Homo sapiens: one gene and its partners. The protein of the gene in region 1 purifies or fractionates together with the protein of each later gene. This does not show direct contact. Each region holds a gene or a part of one and is shown on either strand. Other genes may lie near its edges.

Region 1 (3,657 bases):
GAAAACCACTATTCTGTTAATATATACTGCAAGAATGCTTCTTATCCAGAGCGACTAAATTCACTGATATTTGTCATTGAATATGATTTTTAACCCCTTCTCATAACCTCTAAAAAGCAAAGTTGGACTACAGAAAAAGTATACTTTATGTAATAATGTGTTATGATAGCATTAACTCAAATACTGTCCTTTCAGTGCCTCAACAAATTTCCAGATTAATGATAACAGTAAAAAAACAAATACAAATTCACAGGTCAAGTGCAAAAAGATTATTTTTGGGGTAAGATCACTTTAGTAATTCATTTTCATTAGCTTTCCCTGAATCACAGCTGTAGTCCAAAACCTTGTTAAAATACCTCTCTCAAAAGATGAACAAAATTCAACTTACCTTCTTTTCTCCACTTTGATTTTCTTACAAGGGGTAAACCGACCTAAATATTTTTGCAGAGATACACCTCAGTTCCAAAGTTTACCTCTTCTAGTAAATTACACTTTCCCAGAAACTATGGGAAAATGTTGTTTGGTGAATGAGGAATTAATGGTAAAAGGATATTAAATGAAGAATGCCCACAAAGTAGTTGCCTACCAAAGATACCTAGTACATTAGACTGCTCTCAACTCATACCAAAACCAAGGAAAATGGGTAAAACTTACCTTTCTGCCACTGGGCATGGATCTTTTTGCAGTAGACAGAATAGCAGCGGTCTAATGCACTGAGGTAGCACTGTATGGAGAGTTTTCCATCTACTATAGGATATTCAGATAGCATATCAGGCTTGTAAAAATCATAGGCATGTTGCATATGTGTCCCACGAAGCCCTATTAGAACCAAAAAGGAAGATGTCTATATATTTCTGCTTCTTGATGTCTGTATGTTAATAAGTATACTGCATTATCTAAGGACCTTCCTTAACTATCTGATCAATTCTCACCACTTACAGTAGAGAAATCGCAAGCTGAAGCCAATATAAGTGAAATGATACATAACAGTATCCATGGACAGTCCTAAGACTCCTTTGGTATACAACTTTCCATGTCAGTTTCATAACTCTAACAGTTCACAGTTACTCTACTACACTGAAGACAAATTAAAATTGCCAGTGACTATCAGCAAGTTACTATTTATCATTTGAACCCTACATTAACCCACTTCTCTGTAAAGTGGGGATGACACCACCTACCTCATAAAACTGCTATGAAGATTAAATACAGGCCAGGCATGGTGGCTTACGCCTGTAATCCCAGCACTTTGGGAGGTTGAGGGGGGCGGATCACCTGAGGTCAGGAATTCGATGCCAGCCTGGCTAACATGGTGAAACCCTGTTACTAAAAATACAAAAAATTAGCCAGGCATGGTGGTGTGTGCCTGCAATCCCAGCTACTCAGGAGGCTGAGGCAGGAGAATCACTTGAACCTGGGGGCAGAGGTTGCAGTGAGCCGAGATCGTGCCATTGCACTCCAGCTTGGGCAACAAGAGTGAAACTCGGTCTCAAAAAAAAAAAAAAAGAAAAAAAAACATAAATATGATAACACACATAAAGCTCTTAGCAAGTAGTACCTGCATTTAATGACCATTAAGTAAGCGACAGCTCCTACTTCTATTTTCAAATTTCTCAGCATATTGTGCTAAAAAAAACAAAAATGCTTTCCCAAGCACTTACCTCGTTCAAAAATTAAAGGAGCATTTGGCCCAATTAGCAGAGCTACTGCTCCAACTCCACCTGTAGGTCTAGCATTTCCTGTGGCATATACAGCAATATCTCCTGCAACTACCAGGGCATACCGTCCTGAAAAATATTTTTTGTTATTTCACAAGAAGGAATTCAACACTATAACCAAACATGGAAACTGAAGTCTGTTATATTTTCCCCAGAATATGCTTTTCCCTTCTTTGATAAAGAAAGAAAATGCTCTAATTTTTTTTTAAAATTCATCTGCCAAGGCTCTGTCATCCATCTGACTAAATTTTGAATAGACCATTTGTCCTACAAGATAAGATAACCAATTCACAATTCGGATAATGACAGACAGGTAAAATATCTTTCTTAATATATCCAAACAAGGACAAATTACAAAAGTTTGCGTATTGCATTAATTAAAGTGTCATCTGGGTCTATTGAACCTTAGAAAAAAATTTTGGGGGACGGCGGGGAATAGGCATGTAACATACCATCCCAAGAGCTGGACTCAATCCAGTTAACAGCATTGAAGACAGCAGCTGTGCCTCCATAGCATGCATTAGTTGTGTCGATTCCTTCTATATCTGTATTCCCAGACTCTTCAAACAGCTGCATCAAATTAGTCTTCACAGACTTTGATTTGTCGATGATTGTCTCTGTTCCAACTTCCAGCCGCCCAATGCAATCATAGGAAAGGTTATTTCTCTCCATAAGATTCTGAACCACAGTCATGCAAAGAGAGTTAATATCTTCTCTATCTGTGCAGAAGCCCATCTTGGCCTGGCCCAAGCCAATGGTATACTTTCCAGCATCTACACCATCATATTTTTCCAACTCTGCTTGATCAACATATTGAGAAGGAAAATAGATCTCAAGGGCAACAATTCCCACATCTTTTGGCCAGCAAGCTTCTGCATTCAAAGGAAGTGATCCAGGCATGGTGAAAGAGCTTTAGAAAGGAGAAACAGAAAAAAAATTGTTTTAGGTTATAAGTTGCTGGTTTTCAACTTTGAAATTGAGAAATAGATATTAAGAGTTTAGCAATCACCTGAAGTATTAGTTTCTTTAAGTTTAGTATTTAGGGCACTCAATTGTGTACATGTGAAGTAGCAATTATTATATGAATGGAATATTATCATTTAAAATTATAGTCTTTTAGAAAGGCTTCCATTTTATTCAAAATTGGGCATCTCTAGATTTAAAACATGATTATTAGAGGTAAACAACACTCAAATAAGATTTTCTACATTGTAAAGAACTGTAAGATAAAATACAATGATAATTTAGAAATATGGCTGACAAATCAGAATTACCTGACCACCCGAAAGTTTTAATAAATTAGGCCGGGCGTGGTGGCTCATGCCTGTAATCTCAGCACTTTGGGAGGCTGAGGCAGGCGGATCACAAGGTCAGGAGATCGAGACCATCCTGGCTAACATGGTGAAACCCCGTCTCTACTAAAAATACAAAAGAATTAGCCGGGCGTGGTGGCAGATGCCTGTAGCCCCAGCTACTCAGGAGGCTGAGGCAGGAGAATGGCGTGAACCCGGGAGGAGGAGCTTGCAGTGAGCAGAGATCATGTTACTGCACTCCAGCCTGGGTGACAGAGCAAGACTCCGTCTCAAAAAAAAAAAAAGAAAAAGTAAAAATCAATCAATCAATCAATCAATCAATCATGTATTCATCATAGATAAACCAGTCCTCTTTTAAAAAAGGGACTAAAAAGTAGTGTCTAGATTTACTTACCAATAGCAACAAAAATCACTAGCTACTCAAGACCATTGTTGGGCATTTAACTTACCAGAGCTTCAGCTTCTTTAACAGGTTGTATTAGTCAGGAAAAGAAAAATTACTATAGATATTTCAAACAGAGGGGAGTTTTAATGCAGGGAAATAGCTACAAACTTGTTGGCTGGGCTGGAAGAACAAAGCGGAAAAGGTGGTTCTCTGATCCCATGAGCCTGCACTCCTGCTGAAG
Region 2 (3,657 bases), on another chromosome or scaffold:
CAATGTTACCACAGTTCTCCTAGGCCCCAAACCTCAAACCTTTGGCTCCCTGTGGATCCACTATCCCCACACCAAGCCCTGTTGATCACTGCCTAGAAGAAAAGTCCCTCCCAATGGTCCTTCCATTATCTTATTGTAGAATGTAAACCTTATTAGTGCCTGTGACAAACTCCTCCCTTTCACCTGCACAATCCATCTATCCATAGCCAACTAATTAATCTTTTTGGAAAAAATATTTTTATTGCATTTAAATATTTTGTTTTATTTTTAATTGACAAATAATTGTATATTGTATATATTTATGGAGTACAATGTGATGTTTTCATATATATTTACATTTGATATATGATTAACTAATGTAAACAAAATCCATCAGCTCACATACTTTCATTTTTACGTGATGAAAATATGTAAAGTTAACCTTTTAGTAACATAGGCATACATCATTTTATTGCTCTTTACAGAGATTGCATTTTTCACAAATTGAAGGTTTGGAGAACTCTGCATTGAGCAAGTCTATCAGTGCCATTTTTCCAACAGCATGTGCTCATTCATGTCTCTGTGTAAAATCTGGTAATTCTCATAATATTCCAAACTTTTTCATTACTATTAAATCTGTCAAGGTGATCTATGATTTATGATTTGTTTTTCTTTTTGAAATGGGGTCTGGCTCTGTTGCCCAGGCTGGAGTACAGTGGCATGATCTTGGCTCACTGAAACGTCTGCCTCCTGGAGTGCAGTGGCATTACCTTGGCTCATCCTCTCACCTCAGCCTCCCGAGCAGCTGGGACTACAGGCATATACCATCATGCCCAGCTAATTTTTTTTTTTTGAGAGACAGGGTTTTGCCATGTTTCCCAGGCTGATCCTGAACTCTGTGATCTTTGATGTTACTATTTTAACTATTTGGGAGCGCCACAAACCGCCCCCATATAAGATGCCAAACTTAATCAATAAATGTTGTGTGTTTTCTGAGTGCTCTGCTGACTGGTATTTCCCCCATCTCTCTCCCTCTCCTTGAGCCTCCTTATTTCCTGAGACACAACAATATTAAAATTAGTCCAGTTAATAACCCTACAATGGCCTCTAAGTGTTAAGTGAAAGGAAAAGTTTCAAGTTTCTCACTTTAAATCCAAAGCTAGAAATGATTAAGCTTAGTAAGGAAGGCATGTAGAAAGCTAAGATAAGCCAAAACCTATGCCTCTTGCACCAAACAGCCAAGTTATGAATGCAAAGGAAAAGTTCTTGGAGGAAATTAAAAGTACTACTCTGGTGAACACACAAACAATGAGAAAGTGAAACAACCTTATTGATAACATGGAGATATTCAATGCAGAAGAAACAGCCTATATAGGAAGAAGATCCCAGCTAAGACTTTCATAGCTAGAGAGAAAGTCAATGCCTGGCTTCAAAGCTTCAAAGGACAGGCTGATTCTCATTAGGGATTAATGCAGCTGGTTTCCTTAAGGTGAAGCCAAGGCTCATTTACTATTCTGCAAATCCTACAGCCCTTAAGAATTATGCTAAATGTACTCTGACTGTGCTGTATAAATGGAACAACAAAGCCTGCATGGCAGGACATCTGTTTACAGCATGGTCTACTTAATATTTTAAGCCCACTGTTGAGACCTACTGCTCAAAAGAAAAAATTGATTCCTTTCCAAATATTACTGCTCATTGACAATGCACCTAGTCACCCAAAGGCGCTAATGGAGATGTACAAAATTAATATTGTTTTTGTGCCTGCTAACACAATGTCCTTTCTGCAGCCCATGGCCCAAGGAGTAATTTTGACTTTCAAGTCTTTATTATTTAAGAAATACATTTTGTAAGGCTATTGTTGCCCTAGATAGTGATTCCTCTGATGAATCTGGGCAAAGTAAATTGAAAACCTTATGGAAAGAATTCACCATTCTAGATGTCATTAAGAACATTTATAAGGAGGAGGTCAAAATAGCAACATTAAGCGAAGTTTGGAAGATTTGACTCCAACCCTCATGGATGACTTTGAAGATTCAGGCTTCCGTGGAAGAAGTAACTGCAGATGTGATGGAAATAGCAAGAGAACTAGAATTAGATGTGGAACCTTAAGTTCTGACTGAATTGCTGCAATCTCATGATAAAACTTGAATGCATGAGAAGTTACTACAAAGAAGTGGTTCCTTGAGAGGGAATCTAGTCCTGGTGAAGATAGTGTGAACACTGTTGAAATTACAACAATGGATTTATTACATAAACTTAATTGATAAAGCAGTGGCAGAGTTTGAGAAGATTGACTCCAATTTCAAAAGATGTTCTATTGTGGGTAAAATGCTATTAAACTGTGTCATAAGCTACAGAGAAATCTTTCATGAAAGGAAGAGTCTATCAATGTGGCAAACTTTACTGTTGTCTTATTTTTAGAAATTGCCACAGCCACCCCAACCTTTAGCAACTACTACCCTGATCAGTCAGCAGCCATCAACATCAAGGCAAGACCCTCCACTGGCAAAAAGATCATGACTCACTGAAGGCTCAGGTAATCACTAGCACTTTTTAGGAATAAAACATTTTTAAATTAAGGTATGTACATTTTTAGACATGCTATTGCATGATAGGATACAGAAGAGTGTAAACACAACTTTTATATGCACTGGGAAACAAAAAACAACTGTGGGTCTCACTTTATTGCGATATTTGCTTTATTGTGGTGGTCTAGACCTGAATCTGCAATATCTTCAAGGTATGCTTGTCTGTGTAGAATCTAAAGAAGTCAAAGTCACAGAATTAGAGAGTAGAGTGATGGTTATCAGAGGTGGGGGGGTGCAGTAAATGGGGAAAGAGAGATTTTTATCAATGGGTACAAAATTTCAGTTACACAGGAAGAATAAGCTTTAGTGATCTATTGTACAGGATGGTGACTACAATAAATAATAATGCATTGTATGTTTCAAAATCACCTAATTAATCTTGCTAAGCCAGTGTCATCATATCAGTAACTTTTTCCTAATGTCTCAGAGGAAAGCATCTGTCCTTCAAGAACTTCTACATCGTGGCTGAGTGCAGTGGCTCATACCTGTAATCCTAGCACTTTGGGAGGCTGAGGTGGGAGCATCACTTGAGGCCAGGAGTTCAAGATCAGCCTGGGCAACACAGCAAGACCCCATCTCTTAAAAAAATTTTAAAAAAGGACTTCTACCCCCTTTGTCCAGCCCCTGTACTCAGCTTCACTGCCTCTTTCCTCCCCTCCAACCTAGAACCTGCCCACTGTTTCTGCATCTTCTTCCAGCTTGCTTCTCTTGCTTGGAGGGACTCCTGTTCCTATCTGCCCATCACCTTGTCTTCAATGTTCAAGGATAGCTCAAGTCTTACTTCCCTATCACTGACCACTCTGGCTTTTGATGGTTATCTTTTAAATCTGAATTCCTATAACATTGATAACAAAAAAAATTTAACTCAATTTCCTACTACTTTGTTTAGTTTTAAAACTAACATTTGGAAACCTACTATGTCACATATCGTCATATTTATCTTCTACCCTCCCCGAACTATCCCAGGAGAATGGTACTGGGAGCCTCAGATTCTCTTGGCATCTAGGGAGCCCTCCATTCTTCCCAAAGGCATGTGTCAGTCCCACTGGCACCTGGTCTCCAACACCTGAACCTCCTTCTGACACAT
Region 3 (3,757 bases), on another chromosome or scaffold:
AATAACCCCATTTTCTTCTCAACTTTTTTTTTTTTTTTTTCCGTCTGTAAAATGGACAGGCATTTGCAAGTACTGTTATGTATCACTGAATCACAGGAACAAATTCTGAGAAATGCTTCCTTAGGCAATTTTGTCACTATGTGAACATCAGAATGTACTTGTACAAACCTAGTTGATGTCACCTACTACAAACTTAGGCTATTTGGTATGGCCTATTGCTCCTAGGCTACAAACCTGTAGAGCATGTTACTGTACCTAATACTGTAAACAACTGTAAAATGATGGTAAGTACTTGTGTATCCAAACATAGATAAAGCACAGTAAAAATATAGTAATATGGGACCACGGTCATATATGCGGTCTGTTGTTGGACGAAACATCACTACTATGTCTGTGGCAGATGACTATAAACTAATTTCTCTGACTTATGGTCATTAATCATCTTTGCCCTTTTTTTCTTTACTACATGTATTATATACTGACTCAAAAGGTGTGCTGATTAAGAGCTCTAATAATAAGAACAGACAATATGGTTTACAATATAACAACATGTATTTTCATTAGATATTAATTATAAACCAATAACGCATGTAAACTGAATACAATACTTCAAATCATTCTGCACAAAGAAATTACAGATCACATTTTTTTAATAACAAAATGTCTACTTGTTTAATAAAATGTTTTTAGGAACTTACAATGTTCAAAACCAAAGAATAAAAATATTAAATATATCACTTTATGGCACAGGACAACATAAATTTATTTTTGTAACACAGCAGGCAAATTTTTGTGCTAGAAACAGGATGGAGAAAAATCTAAATTAAAGCAAAAAGTCAGGAAATGGGTGTTCATAAATTCCTGCTTAACTAAGACTCAACATTTATTGTAAGAAACGGGGCCTCTGAACATCAGATTTTGTTTATAAAAATAAAAACTTCCTCCCTGTCTCTGCTAAAAATACAAAAATTAGCTGGGCGTGGTGGTGCATGCCTGTAGTCCCAGCTACTCGTGAGGCTGAGGCAGGAGAAGCCTGGCGACAGAGAGTCTGCCTCAAAAAAAAAAAAACAAAACAAATAAATAAAAATAAAAACTTCCTCAAACATCAGATTTTTTCACCTCAGCAAATACTTTTTCCTTTGATAATTCATAATCCTGCTGTTCATTTGTCACATTTATGAATATCTGGTAATTTCATAAACAACTACCAATGGTACACTTCAAATGCTGATTCTGTTGAATCTTCTTATTTTTTTTCCCCCAATGAACTTAGGGCCTATGATAGAGAAGATACTGAAACATGCTAAGATAATAATTGGTCTTAGAAAGACTTTACAGCAAGTATTTAATGAAAGCCACTACATTTCCAGCTCTAAAAAGAGCCAGACACAATCCCTGCTTCCAGAGTTCACCATTCAGAATACAGGAGGTCAAGCACTGATTCTGAATCATTAATGGGCTTTGATTTCGTCTTTCAAGATTTGCATAGATACTGATTTCTTCCGGAAGGGCAAATAAAATCTTCCCTTACACACATCATTCTTTGGATTCTCATAAGGGGTATTTTGAAGTCTGTATGTTGACAAGGCCAGTAGATACTTTGTTTTCTCTAACTGCCTTCTTCTACTTAAGACTATGTCAAGTATTTTGTTTTCCCTTTCAGTTCTCCCCAACATACACCTTCTGCAGTTTTGTCTATCCAGTCCGCTTTTCTGTAACACTTTGCTACCCCCTTCTGTTCCCCTTCACTGTTTCCTCTGTTGCTTTCCTCCTTAATAGAAGCCTGGTGATCTGGGCTTCCCCATCTTTCCTTTCCTGGCTTCTTATTCACATGGGTGACTGATCTTAGCACTTCCTTAAAAGTTGGGTTTTCAATAAATATAACTCATCAGCACTTCCGATCTGTATTTCCTTGAGCTTTTTTTTGATCTTCAGATCTGTGCAATAATACTCTGTTCCTGAATGCTATTTAGAAATACTATCCTCAAAACACCAGTGGTTTCTTGAAGCTACTTGTTTTAAATGTTGTATCAAAAGAGATTGATAAAGGAATGTATAACTCAGCAAAGGATGCTTCTACTGTAAATTCCCACCATTAAAAGTACTGGATTCTATAGGTCCACCATTAAAAGCTGGTATGGGACACCAATTTATACACATAAGGGTTAGATTAAAATTTTAATTTTTTGGTTGATATTAAACTGAAATTTATATAACTGAGGTCTGAATCTTAAAAAAAGTAAATGATAAAAATTTAATATAGTTAACTGTTCACTGATATGTCTATTCACTTCATCACAACCTATATATTTAATTAAAAATCAAATTATGAGTCTGCAAATCAGATGCTATCAAGCAAATTGCCATCCAGGGTCCATAATTCTTTTTATATTTTTATCTCAGATGAATATATACGATTCAGTAAATTTTAATGTTCCAAATTGTTCTAAAAAAAAAAATTATCAAAAGCTTCCAGTTAACAGTTGGCTAATTCATTTGCCCCCAACGAACTACCTGTTTGTGTTGTGAGGTAGCATCAAAGACTATGATCTTCTGTGACAGTAGTAGCCTTAATTCATACGCATTCCCTCTTCATAGGAAGAGTATGGACAACAAAAAGGGACAGATGAGTCACCTTTCATTAATCATTGACTCCTGGTGTTTTCATAGTATGTTAAATGCCTGATTTCAATTTTACAACAACAAAAAATACCAATATTTATTCTGAAAGGCAATCGTATGTTCCAAGTAGCAGATATTAACAACTTCCAACACGATCTCTAGGAATAATCCGCAGTTCTGAACCATGTTTTAGAAAAACATTTCCTATACAAACAAACAAAACATAAAGTTAGATATCTAAAAATCAAGTTATCTTAATATTCTGACAATTATTAAATATAATAAATGATTTAGTAAACAGTAAAATGGGTACAAAAGCTCAAGCATCATGAGACCCCAATTCCAAGCTTTTTAAGTCTTGTTCCTATTCTCCTATCTTCACAATCCAACATACGCTTAAAATTTAAAATAACACCAGCCATGAAAACTCTGACGAATACTTTCATCAAGTAACTGTGAATAATTTAATCATGAATACTTCCTTCAATACACAATAATATATCTAAGGACAGGAAAAAAAATGTAAATTACTACAAGTGACAAAAATTTAGATACCCTGACATATTTGGGGTCAATTGCCTGATGAGATTTTCTTCATATCAAGGATATGCACATTCAATTTTTAAAGATAATAAAACAAGCAGTATGTTAGAGTTAGCAGTAATTCAAACTACTGTAAAATATTGAAAGTTTCTCGATTAAGAAAAAAAGAAACCTTTGTCTACTAAGTTTAAAGGCATCCATACAATAAAGTGCCTCACGATTTTCAATAAACCTTTTTAATAAAATTATATATTAACAACTACTGAAGTAACAAAAATTTGCAATTTTAAATCACTTCATTTTCTTTATGGCTGAATTTCAACTGCAAGGCCTGTGAAAACAACATAATTTTGTTACAATAAAGAAATACTTTAGAATATAATTTAAAAATAACTACTGCTCTAGAATGAGGTTACATTAAAGCATGCCTAATTTTAAAACTTTAGATTATAAGCCTAAGAGATTACATTTTAAAAATATAAAACTAATTTTAAAAAAGTTTTAGACTTCTTTTTATAAAGTATGAGACTACTTTTACCCTGTCTCCTGGTCAGGACACCAATATATCACCTGTATAAATTTAACAGTTTGA

Evidence for each region.
Region 2: the proteins of HMGCS1 (region 1) and ACP6 fractionate together in Homo sapiens (co-fractionation; one large-scale study listed by BioGRID). This does not show direct contact.
Region 3: the proteins of HMGCS1 (region 1) and UFM1 fractionate together in Homo sapiens (co-fractionation; one large-scale study listed by BioGRID). This does not show direct contact.

What each region holds. Positions count from the first base shown.
Region 1 is NC_000005.10:43,296,348-43,300,004, forward strand, and holds part of HMGCS1 (hydroxymethylglutaryl-CoA synthase, cytoplasmic), read right to left. Parts: intron 2,629-3,657; 5' UTR 2,619-2,628; coding exon 2,171-2,618; intron 1,788-2,170; coding exon 1,662-1,787; intron 820-1,661; coding exon 655-819; intron 1-654. UniProt on the Homo sapiens protein: Catalyzes the condensation of acetyl-CoA with acetoacetyl-CoA to form HMG-CoA, which is converted by HMG-CoA reductase (HMGCR) into mevalonate, a precursor for cholesterol synthesis.
Region 2 is NC_000001.11:147,660,496-147,664,152, forward strand, and holds part of ACP6 (lysophosphatidic acid phosphatase type 6), read right to left. Parts: intron 1-3,657. UniProt on the Homo sapiens protein: Hydrolyzes lysophosphatidic acid (LPA) containing a medium length fatty acid chain to the corresponding monoacylglycerol.
Region 3 is NC_000013.11:38,359,780-38,363,536, reverse strand, and holds part of UFM1 (ubiquitin-fold modifier 1), read right to left. Parts: intron 3,497-3,757; coding exon of another isoform or gene 3,471-3,496; exon of another isoform or gene 2,827-3,470; coding exon 2,759-2,826; 3' UTR 1-2,758. UniProt on the Homo sapiens protein: Ubiquitin-like modifier which can be covalently attached via an isopeptide bond to lysine residues of substrate proteins as a monomer or a lysine-linked polymer.